Homo sapiens: one gene and its partners. The protein of the gene in region 1 purifies or fractionates together with the protein of each later gene. This does not show direct contact. Each region holds a gene or a part of one and is shown in the gene's direction. Other genes may lie near its edges. The genes, in order: PRKAR1A, VAPB, DYRK1A and AKAP11.

What was found.
Region 2: the proteins of PRKAR1A (region 1) and VAPB purify together in Homo sapiens (affinity purification with mass spectrometry; 4 studies listed by BioGRID and IntAct, with this or other methods). This does not show direct contact.
Region 3: the proteins of PRKAR1A (region 1) and DYRK1A purify together in Homo sapiens (affinity purification with mass spectrometry; 6 studies listed by BioGRID and IntAct, with this or other methods). This does not show direct contact.
Region 4: the proteins of PRKAR1A (region 1) and AKAP11 purify together in Homo sapiens (affinity purification with mass spectrometry; 5 studies listed by BioGRID and IntAct, with this or other methods). This does not show direct contact.

The regions. Positions count from the first base shown.
Region 1 is NC_000017.11:68,521,975-68,529,734, forward strand, and holds part of PRKAR1A (cAMP-dependent protein kinase type I-alpha regulatory subunit), read left to right. Parts: intron 1-781; coding exon 782-952; intron 953-1,750; coding exon 1,751-1,842; intron 1,843-2,041; coding exon 2,042-2,103; intron 2,104-2,937; coding exon 2,938-2,984; intron 2,985-3,779; coding exon 3,780-3,938; intron 3,939-5,865; coding exon 5,866-5,926; intron 5,927-6,895; coding exon 6,896-7,017; intron 7,018-7,760. UniProt on the Homo sapiens protein: Regulatory subunit of the cAMP-dependent protein kinases involved in cAMP signaling in cells.
Region 2 is NC_000020.11:58,433,741-58,441,500, forward strand, and holds part of VAPB (vesicle-associated membrane protein-associated protein B/C), read left to right. Parts: intron 1-861; coding exon 862-965; intron 966-5,204; coding exon 5,205-5,285; intron 5,286-5,405; exon of another isoform or gene 5,406-5,568; intron 5,569-7,166; coding exon 7,167-7,343; exon of another isoform or gene 7,344-7,344; intron 7,345-7,760. UniProt on the Homo sapiens protein: Endoplasmic reticulum (ER)-anchored protein that mediates the formation of contact sites between the ER and endosomes via interaction with FFAT motif-containing proteins such as STARD3 or WDR44.
Region 3 is NC_000021.9:37,361,753-37,370,086, forward strand, and holds the start of DYRK1A (dual specificity tyrosine-phosphorylation-regulated kinase 1A), read left to right. Parts: upstream 1-5,020; 5' UTR 5,021-5,876; intron 5,877-8,334. UniProt on the Homo sapiens protein: Dual-specificity kinase which possesses both serine/threonine and tyrosine kinase activities. Exhibits a substrate preference for proline at position P+1 and arginine at position P-3.
Region 4 is NC_000013.11:42,295,392-42,303,151, forward strand, and holds part of AKAP11 (A-kinase anchor protein 11), read left to right. Parts: intron 1-303; coding exon 304-351; intron 352-1,656; coding exon 1,657-1,791; intron 1,792-3,141; coding exon 3,142-3,406; intron 3,407-3,971; coding exon 3,972-7,760. UniProt on the Homo sapiens protein: Binds to type II regulatory subunits of protein kinase A and anchors/targets them.

The DNA.
Region 1 (7,760 bases):
TATTTGAATTGGTCCAATAAGTAGTTTTTAAAAGCAAGTAAACTCTTTTTGTCTTTTAACTTCAAGTTTAAACCTTGATTACAAAGAGTGATCCTAGCTCTGCTGGGAGAAGTATTATAGATACGATCTCGTTTAAATTCGTGGTTACCATCACATCATTTCATTATTTGTTTTTATCTGGGATCAAACTGGAATGTGAATTCCACAGGCTCAGGACCCTCTCCTATTTGTTTTTAATTTCCTGTTGCCTAGCATAGGTCTTGGCCTGGCAGATCCAGAAAATGGCTTATTGAGTTAATGAAATAACTCAGTAATCTAGACATTCTTGGATCACTATGTTGGGCTTGAATTGTTTTTCCTGATAACATTTCTTTTGGCAGGAGGGTCTCTTGCTATCTGCAGTAGCATCCAAAAAAACCCAATTTTCAGGATTTTGTCTTGCAGTGTGTTACTGTTGTGTGCATCACAGATAATTGTTGTCAAGACATTAATGAATATCTGATTTGTTACTCACATGTTATGTGAGTACTAATGGCTTGTACTAATGACTTTTGCCCATTAATAAAGGATAGCATCTGTTATCATCTGAGGTACATTCTGTTGAGAGTGTTTCAAGTGTTACTCTCTTTTTTTCCCCTTTGGAATTGGTGTTTTCCTCTTAACTTACATTGTTAATGGAAGAAGAGATTGGAAGTGACTGAGATAGACTATCATTGGAACATGAGAGTGCCAGCTTTACATGCCGAAGGATCTCATTTTGCAAACTCGTAATTTCTTTCAGGAGGAGGCAAAACAGATTCAGAATCTGCAGAAAGCAGGCACTCGTACAGACTCAAGGGAGGATGAGATTTCTCCTCCTCCACCCAACCCAGTGGTTAAAGGTAGGAGGCGACGAGGTGCTATCAGCGCTGAGGTCTACACGGAGGAAGATGCGGCATCCTATGTTAGAAAGGTAGTTTTGATATTTGAATATCGGGGGGATGCTTTTGGGACCCACTTGGTGGTCATCTAGTCTCCTTTGATGAATGAATCATAAAATACAAAACAGGGTGGAACTTCATCCATCCTGTACAATTCTTGGGTACTGGAAAACAGGTTTCTGTAATAGCATGCTGTCAGAGGAAATAACTAATAGTGATTATGAACTAGTGAATAATTGCATTTTGGGGTTTGTTATTTCCTTGCAGTTGTTTTGCAGTAGAAGGAGGTGGGCGGTATTGCTTTTTCTCTTGAATCGTGATGTCCTTTTTTTGCTATCCTATTAAATGTTGTGGCTTTTAACCTTTTATTCTACGAGCCTCATTTGTCCTGTGTTCTCCTCTTCCTCAGAGCCAGGCTATTTTGAGTTATGCTGTTAGCCTTAAAGGGGAACAGAATTGTCCTGGCACTTGAGGCTTGTGAAGCTAACAGATCACAGATTTTTAAAATGACTAATTATTATAAAATACTTAGTTTTGCCTCAGAATAATGACCTTGGTCCAGGTGTTTTGATTTGTTTCTTTAGTTGTTAACTGGGAACCAAGTACCAGACTTTATATTTAGGCCTGGCTGTAGGCAAGGGGATTAATTAGTCAATACTTGTTGAGTAGTTTATGGATCAAAGATAGTACAAGTGTGTTGTAGTGAAACACTACAAAGCAGTCTTGTTTAAATACCATAATGTGGCTTGACATTTAATTGAAGCGCAGGTTGCAAACGTGAAATGTTTTTGGTTTATGGAATTGTCATTTGACCTTCAGTTCTTTTCTAGGTTATACCAAAAGATTACAAGACAATGGCCGCTTTAGCCAAAGCCATTGAAAAGAATGTGCTGTTTTCACATCTTGATGATAATGAGAGAAGGTAGGAACAGGCTCTTTCTTAACACTATTTTTCAAGTAAGGGTGTGATCCCAAATTGTTTTCAACACTTGTTGCAAGTTTTAGAGCTCTTAGTAATTGTTCACCAGATGACAGTCTGGGGTCTTTAATTCTAAGCTTAATGTTTGAAATTCACGGAAGAGACATGTGAAATGTAACACGAGGCCTTCTCTCTTTTGCAGTGATATTTTTGATGCCATGTTTTCGGTCTCCTTTATCGCAGGAGAGACTGTGATTCAGCAAGGTAAGGGCCTCTGGAGCATGCAATATTGTTACGGGAGAGGAGGCGAGACTAGAGGATTTTTTTGGTTTTGTTTTATTGAAGTTTGTTTTCCTCTTTGATCCTACCACTTTTTTTTTTCTGTTATACTATTGGATTTTTCTATTTCTTTTAAATTAAGATTTTCTGAGATGGACAGAACACTTTGTATTGGGAACTAATATTTTTGATACAGTTTTGTTTATAATTTAAAGGAAATGCCTACATTGTCTTACCTTGAATGTCATATAGAATTGCAGAATCATATATATCTCTCATGTTCTTTATATTGTTAATCACTTTTAAAGTAAGAAATAAATGAAACACCTACATTCTTCATTGTATAGCCCTGTCTATTAAAAAGGTTCTAGGACTTCTATAGATTCTTACTTTGCCTATATAGACTAACATGGATCTAACTTTTTGACTATCTTCCTCTTTTTATTTTCTTATTTATTCTTGACATTTTATGAGTGGGTATATATTTTCATTTTGTGGCAGCCTGATAATTTGTTATTAACTATTTGAGTTGTTTCTAATGTCCTTGTTATAAATGCCATAGCAGTTAATAACTACACATATGTAGCTTTTAAAAATTTTTTTCAGAGGTATTCTTCACCATGAGATGACTAAAAAAATTTTGATTAATTCTATGACTTTTAAAATATGTTGCTTGATTTTCTTTCCCCTGAAAGATTGTGTTAGTTTGTAACACACTCTCACAGTACCACTGTAAAATAAGTTTATTGTTTTGTAATAATTTTGATAATTTCTTTCTTTAATTTGGAATATGCTTCTAACTTTTTTACCCTCTTTTAGGTGATGAAGGGGATAACTTCTATGTGATTGATCAAGGAGAGACGGATGTAAGATTTACCAATATCAAAAATATGTTGATCTTAAAAGCCAATGTATTGATCGCTTCCGAGCAATAAGAATAGTGATTTTGAAGGGTCATTACATCCCTTGTATGTCAGATTTTATTAATACCTTTTGCCAAGTATTTTTATGACACAGAGAAACTCTTTAAAGGTAATTTTCTGTTCAGAACTTTGCTGGAGTGGTGGTGAAGAAGTGTGTGTAGCTGGGTGCAGTGGCCGATGCCTATAATCCCAGCACTTTGGGAGATGGAGGCAAGAGGGTTGCTTGAGCCCAGGAGTTCAAGACCAGCCTGGGCAACAAAGTGAAACCTCATCTCTTAAAAAAAAAAAAAAAAAAAGATTCTAGACCCAGCCATTAGCTAGCAAAATTAATATACCTTTCTTATTCACAAATGAAATGGGGACAATAATAGCATTGATCTTTTAGGATTATTAGAAGATTCAGTGACCTAATGCAAGTAAAATGTTTAGCATAGTGCTCAGCACGGTTCTCTAAGTATCTGTGACTGGTATTAGTGCTTAGCTGACCTTTTTCCCTTACATCCTTACAGAGTGCTTTTTTCTTATCAGATAATTAAATCAGGTAAATTATAGACACTCTTAACTCATTTAACTCGTCAGAAATCACCTATTCTTCTCTGTTGTGTACTGCAAACATAATATATTCTGTTTTTTAAAACAAAGTTCAGGATTGTGACCTTTTAAAAAGGTTTGAGGGTTTTTAACATTTAAGTGTTTGTATCTAGAAAATAAACTTTTTTGATGTCACTTGCACTTTAGGTCTATGTTAACAATGAATGGGCAACCAGTGTTGGGGAAGGAGGGAGCTTTGGAGAACTTGCTTTGATTTATGGAACACCGAGAGCAGCCACTGTCAAAGCAAAGACAAATGTGAAATTGTGGGGCATCGACCGAGACAGCTATAGAAGAATCCTCATGGTAAGAGACCATGGTGTTTGAGAGTGTGATTTAGAATTCTCATCTACGTAACTAATGTTTGAATATTACCAAATTAAAAAGAGAATATTTCTTTTAATGAGCAAATATTTCTTTCTTTTAATAAGCGAATATTTTTCTTTTAATGAGCAAATACTTTGCATTAAGCCCAGCTTAGCATTATTCATTATGCCATTTTAGGCAGTGATATTTTAGAACAAAACCTTGGGAAACAAGATCTGGTATATATGTGCTGGTCATCTCATGTTTGGAAATCTATCCATTTGCTGGTAGGCACATCTTAATTTACCTAGTTATACCCATTACAGCATGATAGGTGCTGCTTTTAAGTGCTTAAAGTTATTTGGGGCCATTCAGAAATAATCAGCTTCCCTAACCTGTGAAAGTGGGTTATCAGTAATGTATATGTATGTCATGTCCCCTCTCGTTAAAGGAATAAACAAAATACTAAAACCATTGGAACTTTCTGGTGATAGTCAGATTTTTTGAGAACGTTGTGATAAATTTATAGGATAGCTTTGGATGTTTAAGTCTCAGCCAATGCATTGGTCATTTTTAATGGTTTTCTTAAATTTGTGCAGTGTCCATCTGACCATTTGAAAATGTACAGCCTGATGTACTTTGAAATTTTTCTGCATTTGGGATATATAGATAGATTAGATTAGATAGATAGTCTTGTCCTTCGCAGCAACATAGATAGAGCTGGAGGCCATTTTTCTAAGCAAAATAACACAGGAACAGAAAACCAAACCACATGTTCTCACTTACAGTTGGGAGCTAAGCAATGAGAACACGTGGATACTAGAAGGGGAACAACAAACACTGGGGCCTACTTGAGGGTGGAGGGTGGGAAGAGGGAGAGGATCAGGAAAAATACCTGTGGTGTACTTTACTTATTACCTGGGCAACAAAATTACCTGAACACCAAACCCCTGTGACACCCAGTTTACCTATATAACCTGCACATGTACCCCTGAACCTTAAACCCACACACACAAAAAAACGCTTATGGCAAAGATAAGTCTAAATTTTAGAAAGATTGGTTTTGAAGTGATGTGACAGTCTACTGGAGAAGAAACTGACCATACAGTTAGTTCTGCATTTCCTCTACAGGAATACTATTAGTAAAAGGAAACATAGAATGTTTACAGCTTTATCTCATTGTCAAAGAAGGAAGAGGTAGGACCTGGAACTATTGGTTTGAAATAAAATATTTTACTTTCTCATAGTGGGCCTGAAAGGAAATTAGGGCCTCACAATGCTTTGGCTTTGTGGACAGGAATTAGGAACTGTAGATATGGGGTGAAATATCTATATAGCTGGGTAGGGGAGGATATGGTCCTTTTTTTATAGAATAAAGACATGTCAATTGTATAGGTGAGAAGCCAGAACTAATGGAGGAATCTGCATTTAAATACCAGCGTTGAACAGGAAGAACACTAGGATTATTGGGTTGTAAATGACCTAGATTACTTTTGTGAGAAAATATTTTCAGAGATAAATTGGGTTGGCAGTGGCACAAAATCAGTTTGAGAGTAAACATGGAAATTGGACATTGGTTTAAAGTGTGTGGAAAAATATCTTGAGTGATAGGCTCAGGTATAAACCGGTATTTCGACTGTATTTGGAAGTTGGGAAATGCTTTGTGAAATATGTCAACATACTGGTTGCAAATGCTAGGAATTGGGCATAATATTGGCGGAAAATAAAAATCACAAGAATGTCATATCATTCATTACCTGTAAAATAAAAATGAATTAGTTAAAATTAAACTTTCCTCATTAAAAGCAACAAGCTTTGACTTTCTGGTTTTAAAATTTATTTGAAACTTAATATTTATTATTCCATAGCATTATGTGGTGATAATTACACGTCTTGGGGATATCACTTTTGTTATTTTTATTTTTAGGGAAGCACACTGAGAAAGCGGAAGATGTATGAGGAATTCCTTAGTAAAGTCTCTATTTTAGGTGAGTTGTAAAGTGTGTTAACTTTGCTAGTATGTGAGATACCCCTGAATTAGAATTGGATGGACTTGGGAAAAGCCTTCTGAAAGTATAATTGCTACTCATTCCCCCTGAAAAGACAGAAGGGCTGAAAGTCCTTCTGACTGTGGACATTCACAGTTATTTCCTCTGTGACTTCCCGTCTCTCTTGTTCCATCATTGAGTTGATTGGTTCAGAAAAGTGAGTACTTCCAACAATACATTTCCTCTGTGGAAAGATTAGGTATCATTTGCTGGCATCCTCTGAAAACATGCCAGAAGTTTGTTGAAATTTAGAGTAAAGCAGATTAATTGAAGATATTCTTTTGTGCATTTTGTTATGTGGACTTGGAGATGTTAGAACTTGTTCTTCATGAAAGGGGAATGGGGATTTTTATAAGGTAACAGGCTTCTGCCATTGTTTATTACAGTGAATTTTTCACCTCTTCTTTGTCTTTTCTTTGAATTGGTTACATATGCTTTGTGTTTTGGATAGTAGTTTGGCCTTTGGGAATAAAAGTTATTTTCTAGTTCTTTTTCATAAAGTAAACCAAGAATTTAAATAGATTAAATTATTTCTATGAAACTTTGGAACGATATGGATGGGGAAACTATGACTTTTGAGTATTGTAGTTGTAGGTTTGATTTGCATTGATGGCAATCTTCAGGAATACTTAAGGATTACATTTTCTTATTCCCTTGCCATTTGGTACAGTTGGTATAAATTAACCTAGCCACTGGGCTACCGAAGTAAGGATCTAAGGGCTATCTGCAGGCAGTATGAGAATCCTGCTCAGACTAGAGGTAATTGAAGACAGGTACCACTTTTAATCTGAGACACTACTAGAATGTTGAATGGGCATGGCTATTTGGTTGAATCTCTTTATACTTTCTTTTTACCTTTATAACAGCACCAAATAATACAGAGCAGTTATTTTGATTCTTGTCTTTCAGAGTCTCTGGACAAGTGGGAACGTCTTACGGTAGCTGATGCATTGGAACCAGTGCAGTTTGAAGATGGGCAGAAGATTGTGGTGCAGGGAGAACCAGGGGATGAGTTCTTCATTATTTTAGAGGTAAAGAACTCAGAATTTAATACTTGAATTTTAGAGGTAAAGAACTCAGAATTTAATACTTTAAAAAGTTGTACGCTCTAAGAGGGAAAGAGTGGGCTAATTCTGAACTATAGCTTTAGTTTTTAAGAATACCTGACCATTTTATTTTAAAATTATCTTTTACTTTGAAATGCTGTTGTTTGGTTTTCTGCCAGGTCACTATATTTTTAAATGAGTTTGAGTCAGAATTCTTGAAGGGCCCTAGACATGAAAAGCCAAATTCTAAAAACCATTTAACATAACAAACTGTGATGATTCTGCACTATTCTTGTTAAAATGCAAGTGTTTGGGCTATTTGGCAAATAAGGATTAAAGGTAATTATTTAAATTTGAAAAATTACTGTGTTTGTATATCTCCACATTCCATGGAAATGTATAGCAGATACTCTTGCTAAGCGGATCCAAGTGGCAGATTTCTATGAATGTGGCTCCATAGTTGCTAATTGATTTTATTTAAATCAGGGGTCAGGAGACTGTAAAGGGCCAGGTGGTAAGTAAGTTAAGCTTTGTGGACCATAGGGTTTCATTCGCAAAGTCTCAACTCTTGTCATAGTGCAAAAGCAGCCACAAATAATATGTAAATGAATGTATGTGGTATTTCAGTAAAGTTTGATTTGCGAAAGAGACAGTGAGCTTGGATTTAGCCCTTCATCTACAGTTTGCTAACCCAAGTGTGCACCCTTTAAGCACCTTAGCTTGATACG
Region 2 (7,760 bases), on another chromosome or scaffold:
TGGCACATGGAGATACTCAGTCCATGCCCACTGTTGTGGTCAAGGCCACAGTAGGCTTTCCCTGCATGTGAAGTTGTCTCAGGGAACTTAACTAGATGTGTGGGTTAGCCAAAGCCTTGTAGCAAAGTAACATATTTTAAAGCAGCCATCATTTGATAGGAGTAGGCCCAGCTGTACTCTAGGAAGTAGGCTGAAGGGAGCCACTTGGGGTAGGAAGGCACCTCCCTCCATGCAGTGGGTGTGACTCATCCACAGGATCCTCTGTGTGAGATTTCTCTAGGTTCTTAGGGAAAAAAAAGGGGGAGTATAAGCTGATACCGTTTTCCCTGCTGTGTGAGTGTCCTGATTGTAAAAATTTTCTAGCTTTATGTTGGCAAAATTGTATTTCAAGGATTACCTTGATTAGCTATATGAGAAATGGGTTGGAGAGAAGCTACAACAGTTCCTTAAATGTTCTTAAACATCTTAGATTATTCTATTTAATTCCTGAAGAGATCATTTGGATATGTTTTCTTGAGCAAAACAGGCAGATGGTGTTGCTACCCAGTTTCCCAATTCTGTAAGGCCTGTAGCAGACATTTACGGTAGGCTTGCAGTAGTGAAAGATCCATGGACTAGGAATCAGAAGACTGGGTCCTCGGCCTTATTCCCAGCTCTGTCATGCGTGATTTTGTGGCTCTTAGGTTGGTGACCTGCAAAATGGAGATGTTGGTCATCCTTGCTTACTTCACCAGGGGCGTCCATCCTAAGACATAAGAGAATGCCGGTAAATTGCTTTACAACCAAAGTACAAGTATTAGCATAATAAATGGCACTGACAACCAAGCTCTGACCCTCCTAATGAAATATTTTCTTTCTCAGTGATGTTACAGCCTTTCGATTATGATCCCAATGAGAAAAGTAAACACAAGTTTATGGTTCAGTCTATGTTTGCTCCAACTGACACTTCAGATATGGAAGCAGTAGTAAGTACTGAATGCTTCTTATTTTTTTCAGTAACAATAATTTAAAAAACCAATTAGATATGGAATTGTGGGTGCATGCATTTCAAAATATGTCAAAATTATTTAAAAGGGAATAGTTTTTTTTCAAGGAGGTTTGTACTTTATCTACCTTTATGGTTTTTCTAAAACTTTGAGGAATAATTTTAACATTTTTTGTGACTTTCTAGAAGGCTGTTCTTTTCTGACTTTCCTGAGCTCAGTGTGCTTCAGCAGCTCCTTGCACTGGTGGATGGTGTCTTGCATGGTTAGGGATTGCCTTCTTTCGCCTCTCCTTTCTGCCCCGACAGAAAAGGATACTTTTCATTGTCCCGCCTTTTTCTTACTTGTCTTCTCATCCCCCACAAACTCAAGAGCCATGTGAGAGTGTCAGTGCTGAATGTCCTCACCCATTTAGACATACATGTTTGTGGCTTTGTTCTAGTAAATATGCTTATTTATTTTCCCCCCTGCTTAAATCTATGTTTAACTTTTCTCTAATTTTGATAAAATTAAGATGACTTCATTTTTATAAAAGAAATAAGTGATGTTAGTGATGGTTTTGGAAAAAAAAAAAAGAGTATAATGGACATTCCCTCCAAAACGAGCTTTTTATACATTTGAATAAGTCCATTGGCATTCTGGGGCTGGGAGTTGAATTGAAATCTACAATACAACCCACAGCCCCAGCAGGGACAGATGCGCTTGTCCTTACAGTTCAGGAAAGCAGGACAGGGTTGCCTCATACCACTTGCATTGCTCTCCAGTTTTGGCCCGCCCAAAGGGGAGCCCCGAGTCATCCACGGCAGGTCTGCCCACCTGAGTCCGCTGTTCATCACACCATACTGCAGTTCTCCTCTGTCTGAGTTTCATACCAAGGGCAACTCAGGCCAAGACCACCCCATGCCCTATGTCACCACATAGCCTTTTGTTTAAGTTCTGGAGAAGCATCTCCGCTGATGTTTCACTTGTAGGCAGAAAATGAAGGAGGAGGCCAGATATTTTTGACTTTTAGAGAGATCAGTGATAATAGGCTGTCTTCTTTTCATAAGAACAATTCTTATGAAAACTTTCTCTGATTTTCTGCAACATGATGTGTTACTTCATGTTAATTTGTGTGATCAAAGAAACATGGCAGATAGAAAATAATGGAAGATCCAAGGGTGTGTTCTGTTTGGCTTCTGCTGCATGGCATAGTGAAAAGAGCATGGGCTTGGGTGTTTTCGAGCTGAGTTCTTCCTTTTACTGACGTTGTGGCTGGGAGCAGGTTTTATTAACTCTGTTGAGGTTTTGATCATTTGTAAAATAGGGATAAAAATGCAGCTCACACAGTGGTGAGTATGAAGTGTGCCTGTGTAAGTGCCTGGTGGGTCCAGTGTCTGACACTTGCTTATCAGAGTGTGTAATAGGCCAGTCACTGCATATCTAGTAAAGGGTCATTTTAGTTCCTTGTATGATGATATAAGTTTAAATTTTTTTTATATAAAATGTACATTGTGGGAAATTTTGGAAATACACAAATGAAAAAAATTTAAAGTGACCCATAGTTCTTTTCTACTAGGCCTAACCATCATTAATGAGAAATGAGAGCTTTGTGTTTTTCTTCCTTTTTTTTTTTTTTTTTTTTTTTGGAGACATGATTTTACTGTGTCACCTAGGCTGGAATGCAGTGGAGTGATCTCAGCTCGCTGCAGCCTCCACCTCCTGGGCTCAAGTGATCCTCCCACCTCAGCCTCCCAAGTAGCTGGGACCACAGGAGCGCACCACCATGCCTGGCTAATTTTTTTGTAGAGACAGGTTTTCTCCATGTTGCCCAAGCTGGTCTCAAACTCCTGGACTCAAGCGATCTGCCCACCTCAGCCTCCCAAAGTGGTAGGATTACAGGCATGAGCCACTGCCCCAGCCTGCTTTTTCTTTATTTTAAAATGTTTTTCTTTTTATTGTGATATACAGAAAGTTGAAAAAATAGCATGGTGACCACTCATATAACTTTTACCTAGATTTACATTTGTTAACATGTTGTGACATTTGCTTCCTTTCTGTCACAAACTTTCTTATTTGCTTGAGATGCAAATTTATGACACTTCACCCCTAAATGCTTCAGAGCAAGGACAGTCTCTTATATAGTCATGATACTATTAATCATAGCTGAAAAAAGTAACTTCAATTCAGTATTATTATGTGATAAATTCATATTCATTATTTCCTAGTTGTTCCAAAAGTGACCTTTAGTAGAGGACACCCAAACCTTTTTGTTTTTCAAACTTTGAACTTTTTTTTTTTTTTTTTTTTTTTTTGAGACAAAGTCTTGCTTTGTCACCAAGGCTGAAGTGCAGTGGTGCAGTCATGGCTTGACCTCCACCTCAGCTGTTCGAGTAACTAAAACTACAGGCATGCCACCATGCCGGCTATTTTTTTATTTTTTTATAGAGTTGGGGTCTCACTATGTTGCCCAGGCTGGTCTTGAACTTCTGGGCTCAAGTGATCCTCCTGCCTCTGCCTCTCGAAGTGCTGGGATTACAGGTGTGAGCCACTGCACCCTGCCCAAACTTTGAACTTCTTTTTTTTTTTAAGAGTCCAGGCCAGTTGACTTACAGAATGTCCTGTATTCTGGATTTATTTGATTATTTCCTCATGATTAAATTCAAGTTAAATGTGTTTTGGCAAGAATATTCCATAGTTGGTATTTCATACCAGGTTGTTCCGCTGTTGGTGATGCTGTTTGATCACTTGGTTAAGATGGTGACTGCCAGCTCTCTCCACTGTCATAGCACAAAGCACATTTGCCCCTGTGGTTAATAGGTAATCTGTGATACTCTGAGTCATCTGATACTTTGAGACCATGTGAATATCCTGCTCGCCAGCAGTCTTTCACCTGGTGCTTTTAGCATTCAGTGATGATCCTTGCTTGATATTTTTTTTGACTTATGTGGTAGGCACACGTGTACAGGTGTGTGTGTGCAGAGGAGCAGACTTCAGTATTCTTTGCGATTTTTTCACTTAACATTCTGGACATTTTCTCCATCTAACTGAGTGCTCTTCAGCATCATTTGAGTGGCAGCATGCTGTTCCGTTTAGTGGATCTGCCATAATTTTTGTGGCAGTCCCCTAGGGTCAGATGTATAGATTGCTTCCCACTTTTGGTTCTTGGTACCTGTGTTACAGTAGCTGCCTCTTGCATGGTTTTGGGAAGGGTTGAGGGCATGGAGGGTGGGGGTGCCTTCTTTTTCTATATCATAACCTTGCTGCTATCCTGGTCTGTAATCCTAGAATACCCTGGAATTCCCATCTTCTGCTGCCAAAAGGAGAAGTAATCAGGAGCGTATCCTCTTAGGACATGGGATTTAGCTAGGAAGGTGCTCTCACTACAGCCTGGAGGGATGGAGATGGGTCTTGGGGTAGACACAGCCCACACACTGCCACAGTGACAGAGGAGGGATTTGGTAATGAATGTGTTCCGTTGGTAGTTGGCAGAGTGGTTCTGAAACTAGTCCCAGATAGTATGCGCTTATACTTTCTAGATATGCCTTTAAAATAAGTTTCATTTTCTCATTTTAATTTAATTTATTATTTTTGAGACAGAGTCTCTCAGTGTCCCCCAGCCTGGAGTACAGTGGCATGATCATGGCTCACTGCAGCCTCCACCTCCTGGGCCCAAGTGATCCTCCCTCCTCAGCCTCCTGAGTAGCTGGGACCACAGGCATGTGCCTCCATGCTTAGCTAATTTTTTAATTTTTTTGTAGAGATGACGTCTCCTTACGTTGTGCAGACTGGTCTCAAACTGCTGGGCTCAACCAGTCCCTCCACCTCAGCCTCCCAAAGTGCTGGGATTACAGGCATAAGCCACCATGCCCAGCTGAAAACAAGTTTTATTTTCATAAGGAGAGCCAAGGTTACCTGGTCATCCAGACATTGTTTAGAGGATTCCTTTTTGTTCAGTGGTGGGCCTGTCCCACAGAGTAGCAACATGGGGAGCATTGGTTGACTTTGAGGAGTCAGGCAGCAAGACTTCAGGGTTTATGAAGTGTAATATTTTGAGAAAGTGAGTGTATTTAATCTTGTCATGTTACAAATATTGAAATCTCAGCAGACTTCAGTTCTTTATTTGATATACATCAGGGCTTTCTCATTAAGAGTATTTTTCTGAAATTGTCAGTTATAGGAAGAAAGTTATTCTTCCAGCAGGTTTATAATATCTTGATTATTAAATTTAAATTGTTTTAGTGGAAGGAGGCAAAACCGGAAGACCTTATGGATTCAAAACTTAGATGTGTGTTTGAATTGCCAGCAGAGAATGATAAACCAGTAAGTATATTTATAGTTAACAATAATTGAATGTTGTAAGCTGATACTTATTTGCATACCATTTCCTGCAAAACCAAGATTTAAGTTGGCAAATTATTTTCCTTTATCTGATGTCTGAAGAAAAAAAATAAGCTGAAGTCAGCAAATAAGTGGGCCTTTATGAAATCAGCCTTTGAAAAACTCACGGAAAGACAACTGATTGACAGTGTTTCCCCTTGAAAAGTGCAGCCCGATGGCCATTGAGATGTCATAAATCCTGAAGAGCTTCTGTGGCCTGGCAAAGGTATAGGTTGCTGTTAAACAGTGGGTGAGAGTGAAAGAGGGAACAATTTGCCCTTTATCATGGTGGTTGATGGACGTGTGGGAAGCTTTCAAGTTCTCTTGTTTTACAAAGTGCCCTGTCAGCCTCCCTACCCCTTTTACCCTATCTACCTCTTCAATCAAAGGCTGCTTTTAGATGAGGATTTCTCAGCCTCAACACTGTTGATATTTGGGGCAAATCCTTGGTGGTGGTGGAGGTTGCCCTGTGTACTGTAGGGTGTTTTATTAATAGCAGCATCCCTGGCTTCTGCCCTCTTGATACTGGTAGTACTTCCCAGTTGTGACAACTAAAAATGTCTCCAGATATTGCCACATGTGTCCTGGAGGGCAATATCAACCCCCATTGAGAGTGATCCCATTCCGGTGTTGCCTGTGGGGAGAAGGAAGGAGCCCCATCCTCTAGGCTGTCCACTGTGAGCGCTTTACCTTTCATGATCCTCACTTGTGACCAGTTGAAGAAAGGAGACTGTATCTGAAATGCTAATTTGGACTTCCCTTCAACCTAGTCGAAAACATTTTAATTTTTATAAAAACACCAAAACTGTGAAAGCATGCAGCATGTGAAACTATCCTAGCCATTAATAGCTGGAGTTGGGAAACAGAAGTACCCTGAAATGTTGTGTTAACAGTATCTATGTTGGTCTGCGCGAGTGCTGTTGATTTGTGTCAAAACTACCTGAGATTTTATTTCTGCTGAATCATTTACCACTATCATTACCCTGTTTCTTTAAGTGGATAGTGGTCATTTTTTCCCTCTTCCCAGTGTACATCCTGTCACAGGAAGGTCAGTTTGGAAGCTGTGAAAGCAGTATTCTGGCCTCAGCTCTGTGATAGGTTGACTTGGTAGCCTGGGGCCTTGCTTCACAGGGCCTACTCTTCTCATCTGGAAAATGATGGGTAGAGCTAGATTCCAGGCCAATGATCGTCAGTTACTCTTTCCCTGACAAGCTGCGTGCTTCCATGCCCTCCCTCCACTGACTGGCTCTCATCCCCTGTAAATCTCAAGAGGGGATCATAGCTGAATCTTGGCAGGGGAAATAAGGGGAGTATGTAACTTCCCAAGATTGAAACATTGCAGACACTGAGTTTGTTTCACCTTCATCCCAGCTTCCAAATGCTAAGTTGGTAAAGTAATTCGCCCTCTGTCTAATGCTCTCCCAAGCCTCCTAACCCCACTAAGGCAATCCTAGGGATGTTCACATCTTTGTGGTGACAGTAATTTGTGGCTAATAATTCCTGAGCTTGCACAATTACAGTATGCTGATTTTTCCGTGGCAGGAATTTGATAGTGCAATATACACAGCCCTTTTTCTCTTTCTTTGAAGTATTAGTCTCAGCCGAACTTCATTATTTGCCCTTATCCATAATTTCTAGGGCCCTGTTGCTTTAGATTATTAAGATATCAGATAAAGTAATCCATTTTTAAAATAAATGTGACATTTTACAGTGTGGATGAAATGCTACCACGTTTGGTGTTTGCTGAGAACTACTTTACTTTGCATAAAAAAGTCCATTATTACATGGTCGGTGACACTTAGGCTTTCATTTGTTTTTGAACAGCATGATGTAGAAATAAATAAAATTATATCCACAACTGCATCAAAGACAGAAACACCAATAGTGTCTAAGTCTCTGAGTTCTTCTTTGGATGACACCGAAGTTAAGAAGGTTATGGAAGAATGTAAGAGGCTGCAAGGTGAAGTTCAGAGGCTACGGGAGGAGAACAAGCAGTTCAAGGTAATAGTTTATTTTCTGGTAATCTACAGAAAACAAGGGCGTTTTCACTAGCTTCTTGGGTGGGGAAGTTGATGAGCCAGTGAATATATAGATTTCTTTTTGCTTTTGGTATTTGGCTATTTTTTTCTCCCCAGGGAGAAATTTCCATGGCTTTCATGAGAGTCTCAAAAGGGTCCTTGGATCTGCCTAAATTAAGAACCACTGTCCCTTGATCAGAAATTTCTCAACTGTTGAAGCTCTTGTCCCCTTAAAAAAAAAAACAAAAACAAAAAACTTGGCCGGGTGCGGTGGCTCACGCCTGTAATCCCAGCACTTTGGGAGGCCAAGGCGGGCCGATCACAAGGTCAAGCGTTCAAGACCAGCCTGGCCAACAAAGTGAAACCCCGTCTCTAATAAAAAATACAAAAAATTAGTTGG
Region 3 (8,334 bases), on another chromosome or scaffold:
TCCAGCCTGGGCCACAGAGGGAGACTCTGTCTAAAACAACAACAACAAAACCAAAACAAACCACAAACAAAAAACCAAAAACCCCAAATACTTCTCTGCTTTCCCAAATAGGCATCAGATAGATATACACAGGCAGGGCACAAATACACAACAAACATATTTTTAAAAAGTCACAAAATGTCCAAATAAATGCAAATAAAAATAAGAGGGTGTGGCAGGGTGTAGGAAAAAGCCATTGTCACACATTACTTTTAGGGAGTGCATATTGGTGGAATCACTTCTGAGGAATATTTTGGTAACATGAATCAAAAGCTTTTTAAGGACGCATACTTTTATCTGAAGGAGATAATTGGACAGGTGTGTAAAATGGATGTAGGACATGTTTATACAACTTTATCTGTAGTAACAACAACAACAAAAAGGAAAAACTTCCTTAAAAAATAGAGGAGCAGGTAAACAAATTATGGCCTATTCAACTGATGGAATACTAGTAGCTGTTAAAATGATTATCTAAATTTCAGTTGATTAACACTAAAATGTGCTCATAGTATAATTGTAAGTAAAAACGGCATGAAACATATCTGCAGTGTTGTATGTGGGTGAATGTACTCATGTCTCCCTAAGAAAATCTGGAAGGACATATGCTAATATGAAAATACCAATAAGGTTTTTTTTTTTTTTTTCCTGGGTGATATCTACGAGTAATCATTCCCTCTTCATTGTTTTCCATATTGTAAAATCGTCTGTAATGACCATGCATGACTGTTACATTTTGTTTTTGGACCTTAGGTACAAAGAATTAAGAATTAACTCCTCGGCCAGGCGTGGTGGCTCACACCTGTTACCCCAGCACTTTGGGAGGCTGAGGAGGCAGGATGGCTTGAGTCTAGGAATTTGAAACCAGCCTGGTTGACACAGAAAAACCTCATCTCTACAAAAAATACAAAAAGTTACCCAGGCGTGGTGGCATGCGCTTGTAGTCTCGGCTACCCAGGAGACTGAGGTGGGGAGGATTGCTTGAGCCTGGGAGGTGGAAGCTGCTGTGAACTGTAATCTTGCCACTGCACTCCAGCCTGGGCAACGGAGTGAGACCCTATCTCAAAAAAAAAAAAAAGGAAAAAAAAAAGAATTAACTTCTTATTTCATAGCATACTACCATTGTCAGTTTATAGAAGGCCTTTTTCTTGTTTTAATTAATTTTGTTTCTTTGTAATCTGTTTTAGATAACGAATTACCTTAAAAATAAGAATAAACAAGGCCGGGTGCAGTGGCTCTCACCTGTAATCCCAGCACTTTGGGAGGTCGAGGTGGGCAGATCAATTGAGGCCAGGGGTTCGAGGTCAGCCTGGCCAATGTGGTGAAACCTTTTCTCTACTAAAAATACAAAAATTTGCCAGGTGTGGTGGCGGGCACCTGTAATCCCAGATACTCAGGAGGTTGAGGCAGGAGAATCGCTTGAACTGGGGAGGTGGAGGTTGCAGTGAGCCGAGATCACACCCCTGCACTCCAGCCTGGGTGACAGAGCGAGACTCTGTCTCAAAAAAAAAAAAAAAGAAAGAACGAACGAACAATAAAGTTTGTACAAGGGCAGCAAGTGAAGACTTTTACCCAGAAGTCTGTAAGAACAGTAGGGGTGTCAGATGCCACGCCATGCCACTGTCTAGGGACCAAATGCAAATTGTTCACCTTCTCGCTTGGCGTGAGGAGCATTGATAGGAATACTGGTTTGCTTGTTTGTCCTTGGAATATTTATTTGGGTTATAACTCTCAGCGAGATTCCAACTACTGGACTTTCAGGCTTAGAATAGTGCCTCACCAGGAGTGGTCACTAACGGATATGAAGCCAACCAAAAGAAACCACCATCTTGGCACGCATCTGTGTGTTAGTTTCCCTTAGTGCCACTACAAAGTACAAACAACTAGGTGGCTTAAACAACAGAAATGTACTGTCTTGAATTTCTGGAGGCCAGAAGTCCAAAATCAAGATGTTGGCAGGGTTGGTTCCCTCTGATGGCCGTAAGACAAAATCTGTTCCATGCTTCTTTGTCAGCTTCTGGTAGCCTCAGGTGTGCCTTGGTTTGTAGATGGCCACCTTCTCCTGGTGTCTGTACGTTCTTCCCTGTGTTCGTTTGTCTTGGTCCAAATTTCTCCTTTTTATAAGGGCAGCAGTCATTTTGGATTAGGGTTCAATCTAGAGACCCAACTCGATTACCTCTGTGAAGACTCTAACTCCATATAATCTTGAATCATCTTGGTGTGGTAGAAAGAACATGGGCTTTGCAATTATACCTGTGTTTGAATCCTGGCTTCACCACTTACTGGTGAGTGGTGACTGCCTTGAGAAAGTCATGTAATCACTCAGGACTTGTTTTCTCATCCACATAATGGGGATGTAATGTTGCTGTGAGGATTAGAGATACTCTAGAACATGCTGGGTAAGTGGAGGCTGTTACTACCTATGAGCTGAGGGCCTTTGCTTTTCAAGGTGAACAGTCTATGAATAAACACATCTGTAAGTGAATCTAATGGGAAGATTCTTAGATGACAAGGATTTCATCTGTGAACCAGGTCAGCTGGCATCTATACCAGAGTCCTTCCGGCCTACATGTGGTCACTTGTTTGGAGCCAGCTGTAATTCACAGGTTACGTTTTTAGGTGAAGCCTGTATAAAACCATTTTACAGCATTCCAACCTGGATATGACATTCATTGACCAATGTTGTCTAAGGCTGTCACACTGGGGAGAAAAGGGGTGCAGCCTTCTAGATACGAAGACCAGCAATGCCTTCTATACCCGCATGTTTATAATCTCAAGATTCTGCCCCACTCCGATATCTTCTAGGTTGATTTGAACTGAAGACAAGGACACATATCTTGAGACATTATCATATTCTGTTCAGGTTACCTGGAAGATTAACTATACAAGTTTCTTCCATTACCAGGAATAAAAATTTGAGTCAAATTTAATTTAGTATTAAAGGTTGCAAATGCTGATGTGCTCTGATAGAAGCGAAAGCTTGGTGAATGGGGTGGGATGGGGTGGGGGCAGGAAGGAGACCCACAAGCAGAGAGGAAGAAGTTGGTTGTATAGGTGGAAGCTTGAGCTTGGGAGGAACCAGGTAGGGACCTCTCCTCTGAATAAGGGGCGCTCTGGGCCACTTCCTCTTTCTTCAAAACAATTAAGTTGACCGTGGACCTTAATCACACTAGCAGGGCAATTTTGAAACAATAATCCGAAAGAACTTTTGCCAGCTACGGCAACTTTTTTATATCATGGAGATCAGCCTGAAAGCAAGCTATTTGCCCGACCACTTTTTGACCAATTTATTTTCGGTTTAGTCAGGTTTCTTCCAAGTCTGTGCTAATCTGAATGGTTACCTTAGTAATTACTTTTTGACTAATTTATTTTCGGTTTAGTCGGATTTCTTTCAAAGTCTGTGCTAATCTGAATGGTTACCTTAGTATATCAATGTCCTAGTAACTGTAGCAAGGACATTTTTGCTGGAAATCATTTAAAGCAGGTGTATTTGAGTCATGTAGCATAGACAGCGGCATTTACTGCGAGTTTTTTACATCTAATATTGTTTATAAGATTTTATCTGTTGTCACATTTGTGAAATTTATGAAAAAAATTGGTTACGAACACTATCACAAGGTGGCAAAATCAAGCTTAGAAATCAATTAGTGACTCTGCTGTAAAATAGTATATATATACACACACACTCTTTTTAGGTATACATTTATTAAATGCCATTAGAGTTGGTACAAAATACAATTTTTAGCTGGTGGCTCTCTACCGATTACAACGCAGCCAGCACAGCATACTTGGGTTTTCAAGCCTCGGGAGCTCACCCAGCAATACATAGCTAGGGAGAAGGGGTAGGGAGAATAAAAATCAGCGAAAGCCAGGATATTAATAAAGAGTTTTGATGGTTAAGGACAAGCAGGCGAATTAAGACTCTGGAAACCGAGAAGGTGTATAGAAAAGAAAACCAGAGAGCTGGACGACAAGGACACAGTAACAGCACAAGGGGATTCATCTAAAGGGCATTCCGATGGAGCAGGCAGGCTGCGCCCCGAAAGGTGGGGAGAGGTTGGAAGCAGATGGGCAGGCACAGGCGAGCGTGCACTGCCTGAAAAAGTTTTCATGATGGCTCCAGCCTAATTTCCCAACGCTGGTCTCGGGCGCCACAAAACCTGGGCGGCCCGACCGGAGCCAGGTGCCAGCCTCAGGGCCGCCGGGCCCGGCGCAGCGTCCGGAATTCCTGCGATGTCTGGGGCGCGGCGGTGGCTCCTCCCCGCCCCCACCACGGCCTCCGCCGGCATTTTCCGGCTAGGAGGCCCGCCAGCCCTTCGAAGAACCGGCTCCACGCGCGGACGGTCGCGGCCGCCGCGCTTCCCGGGGAGAGAGGCGAGCGCGGCGCCCGGACCGCGGTGAGAGCCCTCCAGGCCCGGGCGCGCGGGGTGGGCTTCCCGGGTCCCCGCCCGAAGGCCGCGGCGCCCCTCCTCCTCCCCCTCCCCCGCCCGGGGCAGCCCGCCCCTCCCCCCGGCGCGGGCGGGGCTGCGGGCGCCGACGCGGAAGCGCGGGGCGCTAGGGCTGCGGGGGCGGCGGCGCGGGAGGCCGCGCGCGCTCCCCGGGCCGCAGTCGGCGCGGGCGCGGGGCGGGGCGGGGCGGCCGGGAGGCGGCGGGCGATCGCGCACAGGCCTGGCCGCCGCCTCGCCCCCCCTTCCCCAGCCCCTACCCTCCCTCGGCCTAGCCGTCCCCCTCCTCTCCCCTCCCCCGGGCGAATCACGCGCCCTCCTCTGACACTCGTAGCGGACCCGAGCTCCGAATTTATCCTTCACGTGACCTGAGGGGGTTGGGTGGTTGGCTGGGGACAGAGGGGGAGACGGAAAGGAGGGAACGGAATCTGCCGTTACCTGAGCAACAGGCCCCGCCCGCCGGCTCGGGGCTGGGGGGCGGGAGGAGGACGTCAGCACGTCAGCCGGGGTTTTGCGTTTTGATTGACAGTTGCTATAGCGACCGGGTCGGTCCGTCGCCATTTTGTTGGTTGGTTTTTTTTTAAACCCTTTCGCTTCCCGCCCGAATAATAATAAAAAGCCCCATTGGAGTGAGGCGGGGGTGGCGGCGGCAACCGCGGCGGGGGTATCCGGGGAGACTGCTGCTGTCGCTGCTGCTGATCGCGGCCCAGGTCGGCCTCAGAGAGCGGACACCCCGAGCGGGGGGTGCGGGCGCCGCCGCCGCCGCTTCTGCTGCTGCTGTTCCTGCTGCTGCTGTTGGTGCCGCTGCCGCCGCCGGCGAGCAGGCGGGACCGGTGTGAGTGCGAGTGTGTGTGCGAGGGAGCGTGTGCGAGGGCGATTGTGCGCGCGAGTGTGCGGGTGTGTGCGAGTGTCTGTCTGTCTGTGCGGGGACTCGGGGGCGGGCGGTTCGGGCTCTCCTGGCGGAGGAGCCGCCGCCGCCGCCCGGGCCCCGGCGCTTCTCGCTGCGCAGGTTCGGAGCGCGCGCCATTTTGTGAGATTTACAAAATCCTCCTCGGGAAGAAGCCGCCGGCAGCAGCCGCCGCTCGGCGCCCGGCCTCGCCGACGCCGCCCTCTGCGCCGGGCCGGCCGTGCGGCCCCGCCGCCTGGAATCGGGGCCCGGGGACTGCGGTATTTGCCGGGGAGGGGGCTGTCGCCTCCCCGGCCCCGGGCGCCGCTGGAACCGCGAGCCGAGGAGAGACTGAGCAGGCTGCGGCGCGGCCAGGAGCCGGAGCGCCGGGGGCGGAGAGAGGCTGCCGGGGCGGCGCTGGCTGCGGAGGCCGCGGCGGGAGCGCGGCGCGGGAGCCCGAGGCTGAGACTCACCGGAGGAAGCGGCGCGAGCGCCCCGCCATCGTCCCGGTGAGTGTCCGGCCCGGCCGCGGCCCCGCCCGGCCTGGCGCTCGGCTCCCCCGGCGGCCCGCAGCCGGGCCGGAGCCGAGGCCGGCCGGGCGGAGGGAGGGACCTGCCATTTTAGGAGGAGGCGCCGCGGGCCCAGGGCCGGCCGCCGGGGGAGGGAGCCTCAGGCCGGGTCCCGGAGGAGCGGCGGGCGCGAGCGGAGGGAAAGTTGCGGAGGGTGGGAGCGGGGGCCGCGGCCTCCCGGGAGCCGGGGCCTGGGGGGCCGTAGACAGCGCCAGACCTTCACTGGCCGCCCGAGCGAAGGGGTGGAGGTTGTCTTCCTCCTCCTCCTCCTCCTCTTCCTCCTCATCCTCTTCCCCCAGCTCCTCCCTCGTCCCTCCTCTCGGTCCCCACCAGTGTGGGAACCGCCGGGGTGATTCGCAAGGACAATGCACGGGTTAAGAAAATGGGGCCGGCTGCCGGGTGGGCGAGGACGGCGGGGCCGGGCCGGGCCGGGCGCCGGCGAAGGTCGGGAGCCGCTGCCTCGGCGGCCCTGGGGGTCCGCGCTGGAGCGAGGGGCACTCACTGGCCTCCGAAGTTGGGCGGGGAGCGCGAGTGTCCCCGGCGGCTCGGGGTGGAGGGATGACCTGCCCGGCAGCCGGGGGAGTTGGTGGCTGAGGAGAGGTGAATTAGAATAGATACCTGTGTATCGCCACAAAACTTCACCAGTCTATTTATAGGCACAAACCCACTCTCGCTTCGGAGCCACCAAAGCTGCTGAGTAGCTCAGTACTTGGCGAAAGGCTCCTCCCTAATCTGAAATAGTTAAAAATGGTAAAATTAGTGAGTCAGTGACTCTGGTTACTTGCCTGTGCCTTTCGCCCAACCCTAGGTGACACGAATCCCATAATCTGGGCACAGCGCAGGAATGCTAGCACCATTTGGTTCTTGAATTCCGCCCAAATTGTCAGAAAATACGCCTTAGAACGTTGTTTTCACAAGTGCCAGGCTCTGTTTTTAGGGTTTTCAGTGGATCGACCAGCTTGCCCAGCCGGTAGGAACTGTTCCCATTTTATAGATGAGGAGAGTGAGTCTGGAGAGGGGCACTGACTGGTCTAAGGTCATACAGCTGGGACTCCAGGAGCCAGAAGGCTGTAGCCAGTCTGGAGTTGTGAATCATTAGGGTGTAACTCATTATTAGAAATACTGGCAAATTTTGGAGTGATTCGTGTTTAATGACTCAGGGTTCTAACCTAGAGATGTGTCCCCGTAAGGTTTTTAGCGTGGAATTACCTTTGTGGCTTGCCGAGGCCAAAAGGTAAGGTAATGGTGATGAGGCCTGTTAATAAACTTTTCAGGCCTTTCCCCCCCCAAGAAAACTATGTAGTCAATTTTTGAATGAAAGGAATTAAAGATATTCCTTGATGTGTTTTGTACTTCAAACAATTTTGATTATAGTCATTTTTTGAGTATTGATGAGTCATAAGAAAGTTTTGTGTAAAGTTATTTTTAGTTATTCTTTGAATGCTTAAGGGTTCCTCTGTGACCCTTTTATAGTTTATGTGTCCAAAGTATTAATGAATATATTTAGCATTTTGATTTTGAGGTGTTTTAATAACTCAGGGGAATTACCTTTAGCTTTTGTGTTGTTTAATTTCTCATGTCTTGATCAGTTACTTTAGGATAATATTGTTTTCAAGTAGACTTTTAAAAATGTGAGACCAGAACTAAAGTTTCATGTGTTAAGGTTTTAAGCTGCAGAAGATCATTTCAAAGAAACTGGTTATGAAAAAAGCTTACTTGATTATAGTCAAGATTTTTTACGCATACTTCAGGTATCCCAGTACTTTGGAGGATTTTCCCTGGTATAGCAGTGGTGTTTATGGTAGCTGTCCAAATTTATTTATACTTCAAACCATGCCAGAAAGTTAAGGATTTCTGTCAATGTCTACACCTAGTTCTCTTGTTAAGACTAGTAAAAAGTTCTCTTGTAAAAAGTTCATTTTTACCTCGAGAGGCATAAGCTCAGAGATTATTGCAGGAGGAAGGGTCACCCCTTGTGTTTGCGCCATGAAGGCACACTCCTTTTTACCTGGTGGGTGTTGAAAAAATATTTGAAGGAATAGACCTGAATGAATGGTAATTATTGGTAGGGGTGGGAAATGGACTAAATGACCTAGTGAGATCTTTGTTTTGAGATCTAAGTATAAGATCATCTCTTAAACCTTTTAACAATATTTTGGTGGAACCTATTAGAAACTTAACACATTATTGTGTGCAAGATATCTAAAAATAAGTCCAGTTTTTTAGAGGCAGTAACATTTAAGATAATTTAAAACATTCCATATTAGTGTAATGTCTTGTTAGGGAATGTGGACAGTAAAAACGACCATTTGTTAAATTTTTTTTCCCCTCCAAAATATTGTCTGATGTTTGCTCCTTCGTGTTACTTATGGAGAGTTACTGTTTATGACTTAAAGAT
Region 4 (7,760 bases), on another chromosome or scaffold:
GGATTGTACTAGTGTAGGTGAGAAGGGTGGCTGGGGAATGGAGAGAAGTGGATATATTTGAAATATGTTTTGGGGTTAGAATTGATTGAACTTGCTAGTGAGGGAGAATGGATGAGGTTTAAGAACTGCGTTTTGGAGCCCAATCTTTGGTGAAAAATATTTTTGGGTCATCTTTGAAAAAAATCCTTTTCAAGCAGACAGCATTTTAATGCTTTGTCTGTTTTTTCCTGTTTGTCAGCTCTGTCACCAGCCTGAAAGATTTAAAAATTCAAATTAATGGAGGTTTATTTGTTCTTTACTCAGGTCACATTTCTGGGTTTTAATGAAGAGACAGATGCTGCTCATATACAGGTATGGTGAATTTTAGCATTTTTACTGAGTATTCTTGTCATGGAAATCAGCTTTAGGTTTGACCACAAAAGTCATTTATCTGAGAAGGTTGCAAACCGCAGACTGACTTTTTCTGCATTCTGTGTATAATACAGAATGTATGACTTGTTTGTTTATTTTGATGGCTTTAATAATTTTGACCTTAACAGTAAAAATTCTTATGTTTTTAGTTAAGATTGAGTTAAATTTAAAAGGTAAGATTTGTAAAAATTAACAATTAGCCAATGCAAAAATTTAGCCTGTTTGATTTAGGCAGTTATTGACAGAGGGACTGATGTTTGAGATTGGGATCAGCAAAGGAAAGCTTCACAGTTACATAAACAGTGGTTGAAGTTCCTGTACATATGATAGGCATACTTTTCTTTTTCCCTCGTGCTGCTTCTTAAAAATTTGTGATTCCTACATATTTCCTTTTGTGGCAGTAAAGTGTCTCCTCATAGAGGAGGAAATAACATTTTTAGGTCTTTCTGAATAATGCATATCAGGTGATTATGGGCAAAAACTGCTGTATATTTTGATTGTGGCCTTGCTTGAAGGAAATAATTTGGACAGAAGGAACAAGAGAGGATATATTCTTGAGAACATACATAGCTGGAAAGAGAAGTATTCCAAGATATTTCTTTAATGTTCTTCTTCTCCTTTAAGAGTTACTGATAAAACCATGTTTATAAAGGAAAGTACTCTACAAAGGGTCAAAGACTTTAATAATTCTTTAGCTGGGTAAAATATTTGTGTATAAAGGGCAAACAAGAAGAAGAAATAAAAGCGATTTTCTTTTCCTTTAATCTTCATTAAAATTATCAGTTAAAGTCTAATACAATACCTTGGAGAGGAAAGATAGAAAAACGGATTATATTGTACAGAGTTTTTAAAAAAAAGTTTTTAAGATGTACATTCTCTAGCAAAAAATTTTGTATGAAAAAAATTTCATAAAGTTAAGTTAAGACCTATATGTTGACATTGCTAAAAACTATTAAATGCTTAATTGTCATGGATGTGTTAGGTACCCTGTACAATTTTTTTATAGCTTGATATCAGTACATTTTAAAGGCTACGGGGATAGCCAGTATTTAATAATTTTAGTATATTTTATTTTTGAATTTTTGAAAAATTATCTGTGAATAATAAACTGTATATGTTAACTATTATGAACCAGGAAATTCACTAGCCAGTAGACCTTAAAATTTTTGGATAGGGTCCACATTATAGGAACCTTAACAAAAGTGTTACTCTACAGTGTTACTTATTGTTATTATTTTAAATCAGGATTTAGCTGCAGTTTCTTTGGAACTTCCAGATATTCTGAATTCACTCCACTTCTGCAGTCTAAATGAAAATGAAATTATTTGTATGAAGAATATAAATAAACCATTAGATATAAGCAGTGATCCTCTAAATCAGGTAACTTTTGTAGATAATTTCTAATGAGATTTTTAGGGCAAATTTTACTATATTTGATAAAGATGATTAAACTTTTAAATGCTTGGATGACATTTGTTTTTTTTAAATGGTATCTCAAGGAAATATGATTCATAAGAAATATAACTCATGAAGCATTGACATCCCTGAAGGATATAATAATTTTGGTCATATCTTATAAATTATATTTTTTAACTGTGAAGTTCCGTAGATGGTATGCAAGTACATGTTAATTTTTTCTGAAAATTTATTATTTCTGGATTTCTTGAACTACTTTTACCTTTGTATAAGCTACAGTGACTTTTCCCTATTATGGCCAATTTCAAATTTATATAAATGTTACGCTATATGTTTTAGAGAATGTACTTCAGTTCATTTTCTGGTTTAAAAAAATTCCATGTAAAGTGGACATCTGATGTGTTCTTTATAAATAAAAATGTTACCATTTCTTACAGGTGGTTAGTTTTATAATATTCAGCATTTAGTTCTTTACCAAGTATGATTTTGTTGATAATGCATCAGAGAAAATGCTTTGCATTCTAAGAGATAAGACATATACAATTGAACCAGAAAATTTAAAATTTGGATTATTTTAGTTTTAAAAAAACTGCTATGTTGTTCTTTATAAGGTCTGCCAATAAAACTAGAACTGCTTGCTTCATTTCCTTAATTATGTTCTTTATTCGTATTTGCTTTATTTGCTAGGATATAAGAGGTGATAAGCTATTATATTTGATTTCTAGTTTTTTGAATAAATAATTTCATCAGTATTTACTTGAAAAAAGTAGTATGAGGGGGAAAATCTGGTTACTTGTATTTTTAAAGCTATAAACATTGTAAGTTGTAATGCTAGGGAAATTTAAGTAAAAGGAGTAGACTTTTAACAATTGTGATAGGAAGGAAGATGGCATCATACTTGAAACTACGGGAAAATGGGATTAAAAATAAAAGAAAATAGAACTTGGTTGCTGCCCCCAAACAATTTATAATAGTTAGTGAGATAGGTGAATGATTAAGGAAAATCATAGGGCTGTACAGTAATACAGGAAAACATAATTGCTCAAAGGAATGGATAGTAAGTTTCATAACATTTCAGGAGACTGGGTAGAATTTGAATACCTGGATAAAAGAAGATGGGAGAAAAAAGGACTGGAAAGTGAAAAATGTAGAGAAAGAATTAAGAAGTAAACATTACAAAACCAAGGAGCTTTTCAGGATGCATGAATTTCTTGTTTGTTTTTTTCTCTGAGATTGTCTTATATCTAGGCTTTACTTCATGTTGTTTTGTATTTGAAATTAAAATTGTTTTTATTATCTTTTATCTTTCCCAAGAGTCATCCTTCTGGAATGCTTTGTGTCATGAGAGTGTCACCTACATCACCAAGACTTAGGATTGATTTTATCTTTAGTCTCCTAAGTAAATATGCTACTGGTATAAGGTACACCTTGGACACATTCTTGCATCAGAAGCACCAACTTGAGACCACTGATGAAGATGATGATGATACTAACCAGTCTGTGTCATCCATAGAGGATGACTTTGTCACTGCTTTTGAGCACTTAGAAGAGGAAGAGACTTCAAAGCCATACAATGATGGTTTGTTTTTCATTAGACTTTTTCCTAAAATAGGGAATTAAAATTTTTCAGTTTTGAAAATTTTAAGGCAGGCTTGTTCAGTTGAAATTTATGTTGAGATTTGATTCAATTTAAACCTTTTAACTTTTTTTCTGATTACCTAAGGAAATTCCTTATGATTTTTAAGTTCATTGTAATCTGGTTTTCAGTTTTGCTTATTTCAGGTTTTCATATTTAGTTGGTGCTGTTCACGCACTGGTTACATCATTAAGTGTCTGGAACATTCCTAGGTTCCAATTTTGGAAGAGTTAGCTGGCAGAGTCTCCACGGTAATTTTTCTAACATGCGTGACAGCATGCAAAACATCCCATAGACCAGGTATCCCTAGACATAGAGTAAACTGAAATTATTTTATAAACAGTATATTTACTTTCAAATGTTACTTGGGTGAATCTTTCTGTTAAACATAGTTTAGAAGATACACATAAATATTATATGTTTAAAGTCAGTTTATTCCATGGATTTAAGTTAATTTCCAAAAAGTTTTGTTCAAAAATAATTTCACCATTTCATTCTTTTCCTATAGGAATGAACATTACTGTGCTAAGGAGCCAGTGTGATGCTGCTTCCCAGACGGTTACTGGTCATCATTTAGAAACCCATGATTTAAAGATTCTCATTAGCTCTGGACAGCAGAAGTCATTGGCTAAACCCTCAACTTCCTCAGTGAATGTCCTGGGACATAAAGAACTACCTTCTGTGAAAACTTCAGTCACAACATCAATTTCAGAGCCTTGGACCCAAAGGAGTTTCTATAGGTCATCTAATGCTTCAGATAAAGATAGTGATTTACAGAAAACATTTTTTTCGTCTTCTCCTGCCTACTCATCTGAATCAGAATGTTCAAGTCCAAGTCCTGTTATTTTCTTGGATGAAGAGGGATATCAAAAAAGCTTAAAAGCAAAACTTGAGCTGCCTAAAATTCCTGTGATGAAAGATGATATAGAGGATTCAGACTCAGAAGTAAGTGAATTTTTTGATAGTTTTGATCAGTTTGATGAACTAGAACAAACTTTAGAGACTTGCCTGTTTAACAAAGATCCCGTCATAGGGAAGTCATCGCAGAGGAAAGGGCACAAACATGGAAAGTCATGTATGAATCCTCAAAAATTCAAGTTTGATCGTCCAGCTCTCCCAGCTAATGTTAGAAAGCCAACTCCTCGTAAACCAGAATCTCCATATGGTAACCTGTGTGATGCTCCGGATTCTCCTCGCCCAGTGAAGGCATCAAGGGAAGATAGTGGTTTATTTAGTCCTATTCGATCCTCTGCTTTTAGTCCTCTTGGAGGCTGTACTCCAGCTGAATGTTTTTGCCAAACAGATATTGGTGGAGATAGGATTCATGAAAATCATGATTCTGTTTATTACACCTATGAAGACTATGCAAAAAGCATTTCATGTGAAGTACTAGGCTCAGTTCTTCGTACCCACCATACTAATACCCTATCAAATATTAACAGTATTAAACATGGAGAAAATAAAACTGTAACTTTTAAGCATGGAAACCTTGATCAAAAAAATAAATCTAAAAATAAATCCTTAATGATTAAAGATAGCATTCAAAAATTTGCAGCAGATCTTGTGGAAAAAAGTTTTGGCAGTGCATTTAAAGACTTACAGAAAGGAGTCTCTTCATGTACCAATGCTTTGTACCACTTAGCCATCAAATTGACATCATCTGTTTTGCAGATGGCATTTGATGAGCTGAGAAGGCAGCGTGCATTTTCACTAAAAGAACGTGCCATTAGTGGCCTGGCTAACTTTTTGGTGAGTGAAGCTTTATCAAATGCCTTAAAAGATTTACAGTATGTAAAGAAGCAGATATTCACAAACACAGTTGCTAGGTTTGCTGCAGATCTTGCTGAAGAGCTTGTTTTTGAAGGCATCATGGAGGTGTGTCAGTTTTCATATCCTCAAACGCCTGCATCTCCACAGTGTGGGTCGTTTGACTTTGAAGACAAAGTAGTGAAGTTGTATGCAAAAGATTTGTCTGAATCTGTAATACAGGAAGCATTCATTGAGCTATCACAAGTTGATGTGACCTTTACAACAAAGGCAGCAGTTAGTGTCTCTACGGATAATATCAAGTATGTGAGTGCAGAAAGTGTAGTGCCATCGACACAGGCTGTCACGTTTTCCCCTTCTTTTCACAATCAAGCAATTATGGTGACAAAACCAGTGCAGGAATATAAAAAGGAATACACAGTGCAGCAGGCCTTGTTTTGTACTTCTGGAATTGTTACTTCTATACCGGTGCCCTTGGCAGGAAGTGCCCTTCTCCCATATCATATTTCATCTACTGCATGTCAGGCCAAGGCTCATCTGTCATCTGATGATAGTAATTCAAATGGTGATTCTGCCCAAGTGCATATTGCCACAAAAAACAGAGAAGAAAAAGCAGCTTGTCTCAGAAATATTTGTTTACCTTCAGAACACAATCCAGGTAATCAGAATGATTTTAAACCAACTAATGACGATATTGAAATGCAGAGTTCCTCAAAATTACCAAATGATCCTGCAATTATTAGCAACTTTTCTGCAGCAGTGGTGCATACGATAGTAAATGAAACTTTAGAGTCAATGACATCATTGGAAGTTACAAAAATGGTTGATGAACGTACAGATTATTTAACTAAATCTTTAAAGGAGAAAACCCCTCCATTTTCCCACTGTGATCAGGCAGTGCTGCAATGCAGTGAAGCTAGTAGCAATAAGGACATGTTTGCTGACCGGTTATCTAAATCTATTATTAAACATTCCATAGATAAGAGCAAATCAGTGATCCCAAATATAGATAAAAATGCAGTATACAAGGAAAGCTTGCCTGTTTCTGGAGAAGAATCACAGTTGACACCAGAAAAGTCTCCCAAATTTCCTGACTCTCAGAATCAGTTAACTCACTGCTCACTTTCAGCTGCAAAGGATTGTGTTCCAGAATGTAAAGTTTCTATGGTTCATGGATCCTCCCTAGAGACACTGCCATCTTGTCCAGCTGTGACAGGTCAGAAATCTGACTTGAAGGAATCTGCTAAGGATCAACCACTGAAAAAGCATAACTTGAATAGTACATCACTTGAGGCCTTGTCTTTTGGACAGGAAAACCCCTTTCCTCATTCACATACTTTCTCATCTACAGCACTTACCTGTGTAGATGGTTTGCATGTGGAAGATAAACAGAAAGTCAGAGACAGAAATGTAATACCTGATACTCCTCCATCAACTCCTCTAGTACCATCCCGGGCTAGTTCTGAATGGGATATCAAGAAGTTAACTAAAAAGCTCAAGGGAGAATTAGCCAAAGAGTTTGCACCTGCTACACCACCTTCTACTCCACACAACTCATCTGTTGGTAGTTTGTCTGAGAATGAACAAAATACTATAGAAAAAGAAGAGTTCATGTTGAAACTCATGCGATCTCTTTCTGAAGAAGTTGAGAGTAGTGAAAGTGGAGAGCTCCCAGAAGTGGATGTGAAGTCGGAGCACTCAGGGAAGAAGGTTCAGTTTGCAGAAGCATTAGCTACACACATCCTTTCTCTTGCAACTGAAATGGCAGCTTCCCATTTAGATAACAAAATAATTCAAGAACCCAAGGTTAAAAACCCTTGCTTAAATGTGCAAAGTCAAAGAAGTGTGTCGCCTACTTTTTTAAACCCCTCAGACGAAAATTTGAAAACATTATGCAATTTTGCGGGTGATCTGGCAGCAGAAGTCATTACAGAAGCTGAGAAAATAGCAAAAGTCCGAAATTGTATGCTTTTCAAGCAAAAGAAGAACAGTTGTTATGCTGATGGTGACGAAGATTATAAAGTAGAAGAGAAGTTGGATATAGAGGCTGTAGTGCACCCAAGAGAAGTGGATCCGTTTATTCTTTCATTACCACCAAGTTCTTGTATGTCAGGTCTGATGTATAAGTATCCCAGCTGTGAAAGTGTGACAGATGAATATGCAGGTCACCTTATTCAGATACTAAAACAGGAAGGTGGTAATAGTGAGTTGATAATGGATCAGTATGCCAATAGGCTTGCCTACCGATCTGTTAAATCAGGATTACAGGAAGCAGCTAAGACAACCAAAGTGCAGTGCAACTCAAGAATGTTCCCTGTGCCAAGTTCACAAGTGAAAACAAACAAGGAACTGTTAATGTTTTCAAACAAAGAGCACCACCAAGAAGCAGACAAAAAGAGACAAAGTAAAAGAAATGAAGGTTACTTTTGTAAAAATCAAACTTGTGAAAGGACCCTGGATCCATATAGAAATGAGGTCTCCCAACTGTATAGTTTTTCAACCTCTCTGGTTCACAGCATAACAAAAGATG